2 separate regions of the Homo sapiens genome follow, and region 2 is linked to region 1. The links come from fine-mapping of genetic effects on plasma protein levels. Region 1 holds a variant in brackets. A gene starts in the other region. All regions are shown on their reverse strands.

Region 1 (2,522 bases):
CAGGTGTGAGTCACTGTGCCCAGCCATGTGTTTAGACTTTTAACTAATCTCTTTTTTAGTTTCAAGCCTTATCGTCCGCCTCTGTAGACCACTCCTGTGCCTGTTTCCTGATCCTTCCAAGGGCCATTGTATTCCCTGTCTGCTGCCCCTCTTTTGGATTCTTCTGCACATTTTTTTGTTCATGCATTCATTCATTTATTGTTTGATTAATGACAGGGTCTTGCTTTGTCTCCCAGGCTGGTGTGCAGTGGTGCGACCACGGCTCACGGCAGCCTCAGCCACCCAGATGTAAGCGATCTGGTTCCCACCTCAGCCTCCCGAGTAGTAAGTAGCTGGGACCACAGGCGGTGCCCAGGTTTTTTTTTTTTTTTTTTTTTTTTTCGTTGGTAGAGACAGGGTCTCACTGTTGCCAGGACTGCTCTGAAACTCCTGGTTTCAAGTGATCCCCTTGCCTCCTCCCACTTAGGCCTTCCAAATGCTGGGATTACAAGGCATGAGTCACCTCCAGGCCTTTTTGTACTTTTAAAACTCTGCATCAGTGTATAAACAATGTTATTAAAGTTTATATGACTTCAGTTACACTACATGGATCCTTTTTCACTCACGGTTGTGAGATTTATTTCTGTTGCTACATCCAGTTCTAGTCCATTTGTGTTAAGTGCCCAGTGTGTTTATCTACTGAGGGACAGTTATGTTATTTCGTGTTCACTATTATCCCATGCTACAATAAATATCCTGTGTCTCCCAGATACTTAGAAGAGTTTCTGCAGGGCACATGTGGGAGAGTTTGTTTCTGGGTCATGAGGTGTGTTCATCTTCCATCTTGCTAGATGCTGGCAAAGGGTTCTCCAGTGTGGTTGCATCAATTTACTCGCCCAGCAGTGTGCAGAGTTCCTGTTCCTCACATTTACCAACACTAGATAGTACCAGACTTTGATTTTTGCCAATCTGATGGGTTTGAAGTGGTACCCCTGTTTTAATTTCATGACCAGAAATTCAAATTTAATCTTTGCTGTAGGACAACAGTAACCCACTTATGCCTAGTGTTCCATTATTAGAACGCTAAGCATGTGGGAGTTTTTACATCATACTGCTCAAGGTCATCGCCAAGGTCTGATGTTTTTACTC[G/A]TGCAAAAATTTAAAAAATTGCAACCTCTGGCATAAATGGGTTGAGTGACACTTTTCCTGTTTTTATTGTTGGTCAGTGATGGCATATTTGCTGGGTTTTTTTGTTTTTTTTTTGAAACGGAGTCTCACTGTGTCGCCAGGCTGGAGTGCAGTGGTGTAATCTCGGCTCACTGTAACCTCCGCCTCCCGGGTTCAAGTGATTCTCCTGCCTCAGCCCCCTGAGTAGCTGGGATTACAGGCGTGTGCCACCACGCCCAGCTAATTTTTGTATTTTTAGTAGAGACGGGATGTCACTATGTTTGTCGGGCTGGTGTTGAACTCCTGAGCTCATGATCTGCCTGTCTTGGCTTCCCTAAGTGCTGAGATTACAGGCCTGAGCCACCGCTAGCCTATTTATTTTTTATTTTAAATTTTAATTTTCTATATAGAGACGAGGTCACTATCCTGCCCAGGCTGGTCTTAATCTCCTGGGTTCAGTCAATCTTCCCACCTTGGCCTCCCGAAGTGTCAGAATTATAGATGTGAGCCACTGTGCTCAGCCCAGAACTGATGTTTTCTAAATGCTGGGTGCTGAGAAGGATGTGTGGCTGGCAGTCTTGACTGTGTTATCTGTCTTTACCAGGCCAGTAACTTCTTTGGTCTGGTCATCAAGATAATCTAGCATCACCAGCAAGCATGCATGGAGAAGGATGGGCCCAATGTGGCCAAGATGGTAACGGGACCAGTAGAGAGCCCTGTAGAAGACATCTAGATATTCTGCCCTAAGAGCCCGGAGGGCCGGGCTGTCTCATGACCCTCTGACGTGCTGACCTGGACTCTGGCAGAATGTGCACACACACAGTCACACAGCTTCCTGGCTTGCGCAAGTCCCAGGAGGGCGGTGCCAGCCACAGGCTTTTCCCATTCGAGGGTTGGAAGCGTATCATCAAACCACATCAGAGTGCTGGGGGCCACCTGCCACCCATTCCCAACCCACTCAGCCTTCCTGGTGTTTGGGACATGCTTTGCTTTGGCAGTCAAGACAGCAGAACAAATCAACTTTTAAGGCCTTGTCACTGATAGTACAATTTCCATTATTTTTCATCCAAATTAGGATACTTCTGAAAATAGAAATGATGACTCTGGGATGCAAACGTTGGCTGTCCTATGTATAAGGAGATGGCTTTTCACGCTCCCAGTGACTGAGGAAGTTTCTCCCAGATGGCGCTGCTCTGAGCCTGGTGCAGGGTAGGCACTTTCAAAAGAGTGTCTCCTTGTATCTTCCATCAGCCTTGCGAGATGGGTATCTGTTCCCAGGGCCCCAAGGGAGGAAAACAGGACCTAGCTGGATCCAAGAGCTAGGCCTTTCTTTTTTTTTTTTTTTTTGAGATGGAGTCTGACTCTGTCGCCCAGGC
Region 2 (3,020 bases), not on the chromosome of region 1:
CAGGAGCCAAAACCACCATTGCAGATATGCTCCCAGTTTTACCAGCTAATTAGATGTTAAACTTACATTGTAACAATCAACCTGATATTATTGCCTACTGCAGATAGAACTAGAATTCTAATTAGGTCAGAATTCTAGCTGGGATTGTGTAGATGGACAAATTCTTTCAGGGTAGTTTGATATCACTGCTATAATTTATGGTAAAGACAGTTGGGATCATACTGGCAAACTAAGTACCTGCCTACACTCCCTCAGGCCTAAAAATGCCATTGATTATCCCAAAAAAACTGAGAAAATAATCCACTACAGTACGGAAAAAGACAAAATAGGGGCACTAACACACAAGAAGCACTGAAGGCTTTCTGAAAGAGTAATCAGGCCTGATGTTTGTAGTTTTAATGTTTACTTTGCAAACAAAGGTAGAAACAGAGTCTGGAGCTCGGATGCCACCACCAGAGAGGGTGGCTGTTCAGCCTCTCTCCTGTGCAAATTAACCTAATTCTGAACCTGTCTTGGTTTAATTCGCACAATTTCAGGTGCCATGCTAGGTACACCACAAATATACCTCAGGGACCTCAATTGCAAAAACCTGGACTGCAAACGTTGGGGCTGCAGAGTTGACTAGGTTAATAAATTCTTTCTGAGGTAAAGCAGATAACACCCACTAATAAAAAGAATGAAACTTCATCGTCCCATTGGCATCCTCGGGTGTGCAGGTGTTCCTCAGAGCAAAGCCCATGGTGTGCCCCATCGCCAATTCGTGACAAGGCAGGGGGCGGGGGGCGGGGGAAGGAAAAAAGCCTGGGATAAGAAATCAGAGAATACAAGTCGCTTTTAAACAAAAAACAGTGACTGTTAGAGTACACCCACCATTGGGGTAACACGCAATAATCTCTCAGCATCACTGACTCCAGCACAGCTGGTCCCCTGGAAAAGGCACGTTGCCGGAAGGTTTTGTGTGTGACCAAGCAATTGGCCATCCCACGCCTTCGCCCTACCAGATGGGTCCCTGCCCCCGGGAGTCCCCTCCCCCTCCACCCTCCAAACCCAGGCAGCGCCCGCCCCTGCCCCCGCTGATTGACAGGCCGTGCAGCTACTCCTGGGAGCCTGGCTTTCGGGGGCAACCCAGGCAGAAGTGACTATCTCTGCAGCAGCCAATAGAAGCCAGGAGGCGGGGCGGGGAAGCGGCGCGGTCAGGTGCTCCGCTCCAGAGTTGAGCGCAGGTGAGCTCCTGCGCGTTCCGGGGGCGTTCCTCCAGTCACCCTCCCGCCGTTACCCGCGGCGCGCCCGAGGGAGTCTCCTCCAGACCCTCCCTCCCGTTGCTCCAAACTAATACGGACTGAACGGATCGCTGCGAGGGTGAGTCCAGGGGCGTGGGTGGCTTCCCTCCCGGGAACCCACACTGCTCCTCTGGGTCCCTAAAGCAACGTCCCCTCCTTGCCACTGCACATCTAAGAAGCCCAGGCCTCGGTGGGCGGGATGACTGGGAATTGGGAACATAACCTACGCCGCGACCATTCTGGGTGGCTAGGATGGAATCCTGGTGGAGAAGATGGACACCCCCGCCCTTGACGTCTACCCGAGCTACACAAACCTACTCCTTCTGCACTTTCCCTCTTCCGTTTAATCGGTGCCCCGTCCTTCCTGCTCTCCAAGTCTGTTTGTGGAGGAAGGGTTGGAGGGGAGAAAGAACTGGAAAGTACTCAATGAAATGTGGAGCCAGATCCAGGGATTCCACTGTTTTGTGCAGCATTTTGTGCACGAAAAAAAAAAAAATTCTGATTGTTTTCATTCCCCACCCCCCACCTCTGTTTATTGCTCTGTGTCATGGATGTGATGTTGAGTCTTCTTGCCAAACATTCCTAAGCTTTAGACAACACTTAATCTTTGCTTACTTTTGTTGGTCCCAAGAAAGCAGTTTTCTCCTGCTTACACATGTGCCGAATTAATTTGCTAAGATAGATGAAAATGAGGTGTTCCATGTAGTTTATTTCCTCTGCTTTTAGCCTTAAATTACATTTGGTTGATACTAGCCTTCCTTGTTTTAAAAAGGTGGGAGAGAAAATTAGGGGGAGAAAGGACAGAGAGAGCAACTACCATCCATAGCCAGATAGGTGAGTAAATATATTTGCAGTAACCTATTTGCTATTCCTTGCTGCAACTGTGTTTAATGTTCCTTCCAGAATCAGAGAGAGTATTGCCATCCAAGAAATCGTTTTTAAATATGACATTTGAGCTATCATCTTGAGACCAATACCTAAAACAATTTCAGTTTAAGAAATGTCTAGGTATGGTGAAAACACAGTTTAAAACCAGCAAAACAGAATTTATTGCCCTCAGCGAATACCCACAATGTACATATACCTTGTATTTCTGAAAGCAAAGCAAGCATGCCAAGTAGTTTTTATTTACCTGTACCTATAATACAGCAAGGTGAAACAGGATATATTTTTGAAGTTTAAAAATGTCTTCAGGCCGGCTGCGGTGGCTCATGCCTGTAATCCCAGCACTTTGGGGAGCCGAGAAGGGTGAATCACCTGAGGTCAGCAGTTTTGAGACCAGGCTGGCCAACATGGCGAAACCCTGTCTCTACTGAAAATACAAAAATTAGCTGGGTGTGGTGGCGGGCGCCTGTAGTCCCAGCTACTTGGGAGACTGAGGCAGGAGAATTGCTTGAACACGGAAGGCGGAAGTTGCAGTAAGCTGAGATCGTGCCACCGCACACCAGCTTGGGCAACAGAGTGAGACTCCCTCTCAAAAAAAAAAAAAAAAGAAGTCTTCAGCTTAGGAAGATATCAAAAGGCAGTTTCAAGAGATTTATTTGTACAAGTGTGGTTTGATCTAAGTTTTGGTGGGTTTATAAATACCTTCATGCAGGAATGGGTAGAAAAATGAGAGAACAAAAGATCCCTGCTGGATGTGCACGCCTGATGAAAACTGACAAAATTTACATATCTATTGTTTATCCATACAGCGTCTTATTAGCTTTCTTCAATAGAATGAAAGTATTTTAGAAATAT

Alleles and levels. Positions count from the first base shown, and alleles are read on the strand shown. Strength reflects both the effect of a copy and how common the allele is.
For the plasma level of the protein whose gene starts at base 1,187 in region 2, A is the high allele of the variant in region 1 and G is the other (weak association).

What was found. A credible set is the group of variants that fine-mapping cannot tell apart. PIP is the posterior inclusion probability: the model's chance that the variant is causal. The UK Biobank Pharma Proteomics Project read protein levels with antibody pairs (Olink). The fine-mapping took linkage between variants from a reference panel, not from the people measured, so its PIPs are less certain.
Region 2: ENPP5 starts here. The variant in region 1 is the best candidate, but not a certain one, in a credible set for the plasma level of the ENPP5 protein (UK Biobank, PIP 0.53).

What each region holds. Positions count from the first base shown.
Region 1 is chr8:11,862,178-11,864,699 of GRCh38, reverse strand. The region is part of intron 1 of CTSB (cathepsin B); the gene reads left to right. Among named protein-coding and RNA genes, the nearest start is that of CTSB, 4.6 kb to the left of the region's middle. The variant G/A (reference allele first, on the strand shown) is at 1,129.
Region 2 is chr6:46,169,147-46,172,166 of GRCh38, reverse strand. It overlaps ENPP5 (ectonucleotide pyrophosphatase/phosphodiesterase family member 5), which reads left to right and starts at 1,187. Exons shown (of 5, transcript NM_001290072.2): 1 at 1,187-1,359; 2 at 2,053-2,114. RefSeq lists a silencer at 956-1,015.